Regions from separate parts of the Homo sapiens genome. Here regions 2 and 3 are each reported to be linked to region 1. The links are microRNA targets in miRTarBase. Many come from high-throughput screens and were not tested one by one. Region 1 holds a microRNA gene; each other region holds the end of a gene's coding sequence. Distances are from middle to middle.

Region 1 (3,081 bases):
CGTGCGCCAGGACCTGCAGGTGGAGGAGAGTTCGCAAGAGCCTAGCAGTGGCCCGCTGAAGCTCAGTGCCCACCAGTGGCTCCGGGCGGAGCTGGAGGCCCGGGAGAAGCTGTGGCAGCAGGCCACCCAGCTGGGGCAGCAGGCACTTCTTGCTGCAGGGACACCCACCAAGGAGGTGGGCCCCCTCCCCTGGTGCCCCCACATACCCTAGCTGACCAAGCCTGTGCCTGGCCACCTGGTGCCCCGTCCTACTGTGCCATGCTGGCCTCTCCTCAGGAGCTTCCCTCAGGATCCAGTCCTCACCTCACCCACACCACCCTCCCCAGCTGAGGCTCCTCATGTGTCCATCCCCAGGTCCAGGAAGAGCTTCGAGCCCTGCAGGACCAGCGGGACCAGGTGTATCAGACCTGGGCACGGAAGCAAGAGAGGCTGCAGGCCGAGCAGCAGGAGCAGCTCTTCCTCAGAGAGTGCGGCCGCCTGGAGGAGATCCTCGCGGCCCAGGAGGCAGGTCCCCTCCCGCCCTCACACTCCGCTCAGCCTCCTGCTCCTCCTTTCTATTCTCCTCTCTGCTCAGTCCCTTTCCTCCTGCCTCTCTGGCTTTTTCTCTAATATGAGGCAGCTGTGCACAAGTCCTTCCAGGTGGCCATGGTGAAGTGCTGAGGCCCCTGAGCGTCCACTGACATCCCCAGCCCCTATCCCAGACTGAGCCCCGAGGAAGTTGGCCAGAGGCTGGTCATGCTCCCCACATGGTGCAGAGGTTGAGGTATCGCAGCCTCCCAACCTGGACTCCCACTCCTCACAGCTCCATGCCAAGCTCAGTGGGCACTCCTAAGGCCCTGCCATACCCAGAGTGCCCATGGGCACAGACTGCAGCTGGAGGGGCTGGCTGGCTGGAAGGCTTGGTGGCCTCTGACTTTTCTGTGGATCCAGGTCTCCCTGAAAACCAGTGCCTTGGGGAGCTCGGTGGAAGAGGTAGAGCAGTTGATTCGCAAGCACGAGGTCTTCCTGAAGGTTCTGACTGCCCAGGACAAGAAGGTAATGGAGTCAGGAGGCCTGGGCGTGGTCAGAGTGTGGTGGTTGGGAGAGAGTCCTGAAGGGGGTCACGGGGCGCTTGGTGTGTTCCTGGAGGCAGTGCTGATGAGCCTGCAAGGCTGGGGTCCTGGTTGGGGTTGACTGAGCAAGTTGTATGTGTGGCTCAAGAAGAGGGCCCAGGGGGAGATGGGCCACACTGCAGAGACCCACACGGGGCATTTGGCTCTGTCCACACCGTGTGGTCCTTGGGGAGCAGACTGGTCTGGCTTGTGGCTGGGAGGATCAGATACCCCTCAGCCATGTGGGGCTGAGGAAAGGGCTCCGGGGCCCTCAAAGAAAGGACTGTGAGCCCTGCAGGCCAGGCCCTGCCCCAGCCCAGGGTGGGAGAGCAGCAGCTGTGCCCCTGCCCCACAGGAGGCAGCCCTGCGTGAGCGGCTGAAGACGCTCCGGCGCCCCCGGGTGCGGGACCGGCTTCCCATCCTGCTGCAGCGCCGGATGAGAGTGAAGGAGCTGGCGGAGAGCCGGGGACACGCCCTGCATGCCTCCCTGCTGATGGCCAGCTTCACCCAGGCCGCAACCCAGGTCAGAGGGCACCCCCAGCCCAGGGCCTTCCACTGGAACCACACTCGACAGTTTTCAGCCGCCTTCACACCGCAACACTGTGAGGCGGAAACAGGTTCGGGGGTGGATGGCTTTCCCAGAGGCTGTGCTGGAGCCCAGAACATGGGATCTAAGCCCCTTTGTGTGGAGACCTCACCAGTGTCCCGAGCTCTAGCAGCGCCAGGGCAAGAGAGGTGGGGAAGGGAGCAGAGCAGCCCAGGGCCCCAGGAGTAGGGGCCACACCTCCAAAACGAGAGCCCACCCAAGGCCCTGCCCGGCTGCCTCCTGCAGCAACCTTCCGGAGCTGGAACCTTCAGGGCTCATTTACCAGGTGCTGCCCGCCCCACCCCTGAGGCCAGCCTCCTGGGAATGGCTGGGGGCTAGGCCTGTGGCGTCTGGGGCCTGAGGCTGCAGAACATTGCAGCATTCATGTCCCACCCCCACCAGGCTGAGGACTGGATCCAGGCGTGGGCCCAGCAGCTGAAGGAGCCGGTCCCTCCTGGGGACCTGAGAGATAAGCTGAAGCCCCTGCTGAAACACCAGGCCTTTGAGGCTGAAGTCCAGGCCCATGAGGAGGTCATGACCTCTGTTGCCAAGGTAACAACCGGGCCCTCAGCCCCATGCCTGCCCCAAAGTGTGGCCCAGGGGCAATGTCAGTCTTAGGAGGAAGTGCAGCAGGCAAGATGTCCTGTGTCCCCTCTCTCCCTCCAGAAGGGAGAGGCTCTCCTGGCACAGAGTCACCCTCGAGCCGGAGAGGTCTCCCAGCGGCTGCAGGGCCTGCGGAAGCACTGGGAGGACCTGAGGCAGGCAATGGCCCTCAGGGGCCAGGAGCTGGAGGACAGGCGGAACTTCCTGGAGTTCCTGCAGAGAGTGGACCTTGCAGAGGCCTGGATCCAGGAGAAGGTGTAGCCCCAGCTGGGTGGGGGCTGAGAGATGGGGGGAGGAGCCCTCCCTTGACAGGAGGGATCCCCAGCAGCAGGTGCCAGGAGCCTGGGCTGGTGCTCACAGCGCTCCCTCCCCACCCTCGGCCTTCACAGGAGGTGAAGATGAATGTTGGTGACCTGGGCCAGGACCTGGAGCACTGCCTGCAGCTCCGACGGCGGCTCCGCGAGTTCCGAGGAAACTCGGCCGGGGTAAGAGGGCCTTGCTGGGTAGAGGTTGGCCATGCATCCCGCACTGAAAATCCAACTGAGAGCAGGGAAAGAGTGTGGGCTGTAGAGCAGGGCGTGGGCGCCATGCCTGCTCCTCCTATGCCCTCGGGCAGGCTCCCTCCTCTCACCCGCCTTCACTCCTTCCTCTTTAGAATGGGGGTAGCACCCACCTCAGAGGTAAGAGAGCACGTGTGTGGTGGCAGGTACGTGAATCTCTAGCTGTGATAAAACTGCATAGACCTATCCCCCACTGCCCCGCACAGATGCATACTTGCAAAAACTAATAAAATCTGAATGA
Region 2 (3,081 bases), 31 Mb from region 1:
TATCCCAGCTGGGGGCACTGAATCTACTAATAACACAAGCAATTCACTCTGGGAATTCTGTCAAATATGGTGGTATCTGTTAAAAGCTTGGAAGTAGAAAAGGGCCAGTTCATCTTGATCATACAAATTAGGGAATGCACCCACAACTGCAATACCCTCAGGCAGTATGCCAACATTGAAATAGAAAGCATCTCTAAAAAGCACTGTTCCTCCATGGGTGAAGACTGGTATTAGGAAGTGCACACACAATTTTTGGGTATTTGTTGCAACAGGAACACGTGGATTTATGACACTCAAACCTAGACACTGCAAAGTTAACTGGTAAGATTTTTTTTTTTTAAACACCACACATACACAAAGCATTTTAAAGGAGCCACATATATCTATATAGCAACTCTGACTGCTTTTCAAAGTTACCAGGGAAAGGAACTTATTCAGGCTTTCTTTAAAAAAACTCCTTAGTTTTAATGTATATCTTTTTAAGATTGATGCTGTCATTTGAAGTAAAATAATGTCATATGGATAATGGGGGAAGAGGGGAGAGAGACGAGAAAATGGAAGAAGCAGACACTGAGTTCAGATTTGCACCTGAGGTGGCAAGGGAGGAAAGGAGAAAAGGTACAGGTAAAGTTGATCCTAAAGCGACAAGTGGTTTAAGGAAGCAGCATTTATACTCAGCAAACATTCACTGATTTTTGATGGGAAAAGAACAGTTGCCAGTAAATCTCCTGTAACAACCTTTTCTAAAAGGAAAAGTAGGGTTGATTCAGCAAAGCCTAACTTAGGCAAAAGGCCAGAGGAAAGTGAACCTACTTCCCAATGGAGTAATAGGATGTACAGTGTAAGAGCAGACAAAGCTGCCTCACAAATGGTAAACACTCCCTAGGCAAAAGACATTTAAAGGAAGACGAAGAGGTCCTCAGCCTCAACTGGTATTTCATATTTAGACCTCTTAATCTAGTTGCCTAGTTCACTCTGCACTCCTGTATAAAACTGACAGATTTACAGATGCTGACCTATTGAAAAATACCACAGCCAGAATGGCCTAAACAGGTATATAGTTAATACAACCACCACCATCCTTTACTTTTAACATAGCTCTTAGTAGGAATTTCATAAAAATGGACATCACAGCTAAAATGCATTATTAATTCTCCTATCTGCTGACAATAAAAAAGCAGCAAACTCAGTGATTTCTATTTAAATGCACTAGATGGGAATATCATGTTCTAGGGGTGTTTGCCTTCAAACCAAACCCACAGCAACACACACAAGCAATTTCGGTATCCACCATTTTAAATTCACAATCTGAGACTAAATGAATGGCTATTTATATTTAAAGCAAAACATTCTCTTTGACACCCTAATGTAGAGAAGGGGTGAGCAGACGAGCCATAACTAAAATCTGAAAAGCAGCAATTAAGGGAAAACCAAAAAGTAAAAGAAATTTTAAAATGCTTCCACTGGATGCGACAGGGGACTTAAGAATGCCTACAGCTGTGTGCATAACATGGGCACACAAAGGCTTGGGTAGAGGCATGATGCCATGGAGGGGGATTAGGTTGGGACAGGTTAATTCATGAGCTGTAGCAACAAAACTCCCTGCTGTACCCCTTAATCAGGTCATGGCATTAGTCAGAGCTTGACCTCCCTTGTCCCTGATCAAGAGCAGGAATTCAAGGCATGAGGCCCATGGCCGGCAACAGACATACCAACACCAGAAAGGGCAAAATAACCTCAGGAAAGTGAAAGAGCTCTAGATAGGTCTTCCAGAGGTGCTAAACCGACACACCTTTATCCCAACCCCAACCCGGGAAAGATAAGCAAACTGAAAGAAAATGCACAGCAAATAGACATAATCTTGAAGATTTTTAAAGAATAAATATTTTTTTGTAATTAAACATTATGCAAACACGTGCCACGCTTGCTTTGTCCATGCATATGCGCTATATACAATTTTGAAAAATACTGTGTTGTCCTCTTGTTTTAAAAGTCATATACAAAGTTTTTATGTTTTTCGTTTGTTGAATCCTCTTGCTGCCTACCCCTTTCCCCATCCCAAGATTTTCTTTACAAGGAACTAAGCATCATTCACTCATGACCTTGGGGTATGAGAGAAAGAGAGTCAGTCTGTGTGTGGGTGTATCTGTATGTGTAGGGGAGGAAGGGGAAGAGGTCCTTTACCAAAGTACAACAAAATGGCTGGTTTGAACATGAAAAGCAGTGTCAAGGAGCTGTTTGAAATTTTAACTGTACTACACTCAGGAAAAGGAAAAAGAAAAAAAAGGAGTCAGCTTTGAGAATGAAGCTACGTTACAAGTTAAAGTTGGAGGGCTTTTAGTGTGTCTGTCACACTTTTGTTGGTGGCCTAGAATACTGTTGTACAATGGTTTATCTACCTTTTTATTACAATATAATTTACTTAAACTTTCCATTAACAAAACAATTCTGGTACTACAGACCAGTGGTGTCAGAATAGGCTTAGTGCCTCCTTGTTTGTGTTTGTTTTGTTTTAATTGCATGAGCACTCTAGATGGTAAAGTTTTCAGAGTTCATTTTATGCAGGGCCATTCTCAGTCCTCAATGTACTCCCACAGATCTTTTTCATAGCCTTCATGCACATGCTGTAACAAAACCCTTCGTCGACTCTCACAGTATCTGTAATCAAAGAGAAAAAAAAAAAAACTTGTTGTCAGCCTCTAATAATAAAAAAAGAGGCATTTACTTATTTTTAAGGCATCCCTATAGTTTATCCAGACTCGGAACCAAGCACCTATTTTTTATTTTAATAGGCACATGTTCAGGTCTAGATGTACAGACACATCAAACTGCTTCTAATATTAAAATGGTATTTTCTGAAAGCCATGATTCCATGGGAATTAATTTTAAAGCAATAAAGTGTTACAAGTTCTGATGGACCTTAGAAATCATAATTCAATCCCACAGTTCTGCAGATAAACAGGTTCAGAAATAATTTCATGGGTTCTTTATTCACGTCCTTAAAATCTCTGTCAACTGTAAAAGTACTGTAAACAAAATATGGTAGCTAAAATTGGCTAAGGGAAGGGAAGATATTGGTTA
Region 3 (3,081 bases), not on the chromosome of region 1:
TGAGACAGCGAAGCCTCAGTGAGGCCTCGAGTCAGCCCGGACCTCCCCGGGAGGCCTCAGGGCCCCCTCTGACTGCAGGGGTTGGAAGTGTCATCCCAAGGGCTGAGGGTCAGAGAGGGAAAGGGACCTCCCCACCAAAAGAAGAGTCTGAGGAGGCTGGAGGGGCTGCGGTGGGCTGCCCAGGGACTCTGCGCTCATGCCCTGGAGGGGATCTGGGCCAGGTGGCTGGCTGTCCTCTCTGCCACTCCCCCGACCCTGCTGAGGGCACCCTCAGCCCTGCTCTCCAGCTCCCGCCCACCGGACGCTAACCCGCTGACCGTGCACAGGTGCAGTCACAGCACAGCCTGCATGAGAATGGCGCGCTGGTGCCACTGGGTGATGCGCTGTACGTGACGGGCGGCCGCTGGCAGGGCATGGAAGGTGACTACCACGTGGAGATGGAGGCCTACGACACGGTTCGGGACACCTGGACCCGCCACGGCGCCCTGCCCCGGCTCTGGCTCTACCACGGGGCCTCCACCGTCTTCCTGGATGTCTCCAAGTGGACCCAGCCCTCCGGCCCCACCCAGGAGCACTAAACCAGGGCCAGGGTCCCCGGGGAGGAGTCCCCACAGCGGCCCCTCATCAGCCTGTGGAACGGCCCCTTTCATTTTCGCTTATTTGTTCACTCGGAGCTACCATTCCTTCCAAGCTGCGCTCAGGCCACCAGGGGTGATCAGACGGCATGGCTTGGAGGACACAGCCTTGGTCTCTGTGGCCACCACACTAAACTCTGAGCTGAGCAGTGACAAGGGCCTGAGTGCCAGACGCTGGCATAACAGGGACAGGAAGCTCTGCTGCCCCTGGGGTTCCCGAGACCTCAGAGAGGGGAGCCGGGGGCCGGGCCAGCATTCCCAGAGCTTGCGAGCCCCACTCCTGCCCCTGGACCCCAGCAGGGGCTTTTGGAGCAGTTGCATGAATGTGGGGTGAACACGGAGCGTCCCAGAAAGCTGAGGCTGCTGGGGAAGGCAGGCCCCGGAGATGGGATCAGCACCAGGTCCTCGTGGGCCTGCTTCTGCCCAGCTCACGGCAGCGTAACTGTGGCCAGCCACCTCCCCTCTCTGGGCTTCAAGCTCCGCGTCCACCACACACGGGGCTGGCTGTGTGGGCTTTGGGTCCCCACTCAGGCTTTGCATGTTGGTGCTGTGTTTCTGCTTCTGTGGACAAAGGAGGCCCCCACCCATCTCTTGCACCCAGAGGGCGGTGCCCACAGAGGCACCAGGAAGGAGGGAGGCAGGGCGTGGGGCGGGGCTGGAGGGTCCCAGGGAGGTGAGCAGTTTTGCTCTCAGAAGGGATTGCCTCCGTCTCTGTGTGTCAGAACAAAGGCTCTTCATTAGAATGGAATTTCCCACCAGGGGACGACTCTTGGGTGCATTGGTGGCAGCCTCCTGAGGGTGAGGGGTAGCATCCGATGGGCCCCTGCCAGCATGCAGCCCGACTCCGGCTGGCTCAGGCTCCGAGTGGCTTCTCCCTCATCCTGAATGAGGCACCCACCTTTGCAGCTAAGGAGACAATGAAGGACTCTCCCTGGGTGCCCAATGGCGTGTCCCTCCTGTCACAGGCTCCGCCCTGGGACATGGGGCTAGAAGTCAGGAGTCGGGCCCGGCCAGGCACAGGCCCTGGTGTTGCCCCAGAGGCCCTGGGCAGCTCCGGTCTCCCGCCGGATCCAGGCTTCCTCTCCAGGACCAGCCCCTGGGTTCCTCCTTAACACCCCCCGCCCCTGGGGACCAGAGGGGCCTCTGACATCCTTGGGTTCTGAGGACGGAAACCCCTGAGCCTCTTGAGCTTCTGTAGGTAGGGATCTGCTTTGCTCCCAGACCTGCCTCTCATAGCTTTTTTTTTTTTTTTTTTTTTTTTTTGAGACGGAGTCTCGCTCTTGTCGTCCAGGCTGGAGTGCAATGCTGAGATCTTGGCTCACTGCAACCTCCACCTCCCGGGTTCAAGAGATTCTCCTGCCTTAGCCTCTCAAGTAGCTGGGATTACAGGCACTCGCCACCACGCCTGACTAATTTTTGTATTTTTAGTAGAAACAGGGTTTCACCATGTTGACCAGGCTGGTCTTGAACTCCTGACCTCAGGTGATCCGCCCGCCTCAGCCTCCCAAAGTGCTGGGATTACAAGGTGTGGGAGAAGTGAGTTGACCCTGGAGGGCCAGACAGAGTGGGGCCTCTGGGTGCTACCAAAGGAACAAGAGCCCAGAGCTGAGGAGACCTTCGGTGGCAGATGGATTGGATGAAGCAAGGGTGAGGGTTTCTGGGGCCCTGGGCTCTGTTTCCATGTGGAAATCTGAAATGTTTTCTAGACAGTGATGGAAGGAGGTCAGCCAAAGGGCTGTTTAAAAACAAAGCCTCCATGTAAACCATTTCTGCAAGAATATTTTAAAATAAATAAAAATAAAACTGAAGACATGAAATGTCAAAATAGGCTGGCTTTGATCACAAAGTAGCCAAAAGGGCGGCGTGCCAGAGCAACGCCTGCTGTCCACCCTTGCACACCCTATGGGAATATGGGCGGTCCTCGGGTGGAAGGAGTGGGCCTCTCCAGGGCCTGGCTCCCAGCTTTGAGGTGCCAAAGTGCACCTCGTCCGATCAGCTGGGCTCCTGATTCAGGGGGCCATCGCAGCCTTCAGGGCACCAGGAGGAAAGGGGCGTCTGCTGGGTATTGAGGTGAGTGGCTAAGGAGAGTTTCACGACGGCCTCTCCCCATGCTGTGGGCAGGGTGAAGGGAGCCCAGTGGCTGGAGAGGCATCCCAGGACAGCAGCAGTGGGAGTGCCACCCCCCCCACCCCGTCTTGGGAGAAGGGAAAGGGCAGACGCAGACTCCAGGGAGCTGCTGAGAGAGGGCCTTGGCGGGGGAACGCAGCCACCACCCCTGTTGTCCAGCTGGGAGGAGGTGGCAGAGTCCATCTGCCCTCTCTCTCTGGCCTGCCCCCTGTCTCCCACTAGCGCCTCCTACAGGCCAAGCCCAACCAGAACCCAGAGGGAAGAGAGGCCATTGACAGGCTGTAGTGGCCACCTGGGGACACAGAACAGGTGGAGAAGG

Evidence for each region. Region 1 holds the annotated microRNA hsa-miR-4310 (GCAGCAUUCAUGUCCC, at 2,053-2,068, shown strand). A microRNA usually pairs through its seed, bases 2 to 8, with sites in the 3' UTR of a target mRNA and lowers its output. Matches are read on the target gene's strand: a 7mer-m8 pairs with bases 2 to 8, a 7mer-A1 pairs with bases 2 to 7 and ends in A, and an 8mer does both.
Region 2: miRTarBase lists ARIH1 as a target of hsa-miR-4310. Seed matches in the 3' UTR shown: 7mer-m8 at 663-669.
Region 3: miRTarBase lists KLHL30 as a target of hsa-miR-4310. Seed matches in the 3' UTR shown: 8mer at 1,937-1,944.

What each region holds. Positions count from the first base shown.
Region 1 is chr15:41,865,492-41,868,572 of GRCh38, reverse strand. MIR4310 (microRNA 4310) reads left to right here and starts at 2,022; the gene lies at 2,022-2,078. It overlaps SPTBN5 (spectrin beta, non-erythrocytic 5), which reads left to right. Exons shown (of 68, transcript NM_016642.4): 33 at 1-175; 34 at 355-504; 35 at 931-1,035; 36 at 1,447-1,614; 37 at 2,080-2,229; 38 at 2,344-2,535; 39 at 2,670-2,765.
Region 2 is chr15:72,582,785-72,585,865 of GRCh38, reverse strand. ARIH1 (ariadne RBR E3 ubiquitin protein ligase 1) reads right to left here. Exons shown (of 14, transcript NM_005744.5): 14 at 1-2,658. The coding sequence ends at 2,574. Among named protein-coding and RNA genes, the nearest start is that of MIR630, 2.9 kb to the left of the region's middle.
Region 3 is chr2:238,150,488-238,153,568 of GRCh38, forward strand. It overlaps KLHL30 (kelch like family member 30), which reads left to right. Exons shown (of 8, transcript NM_198582.4): 8 at 327-2,460. The coding sequence ends at 578. Among named protein-coding and RNA genes, the nearest start is that of ERFE, 6.9 kb to the right of the region's middle. RefSeq lists an enhancer at 2,795-3,081.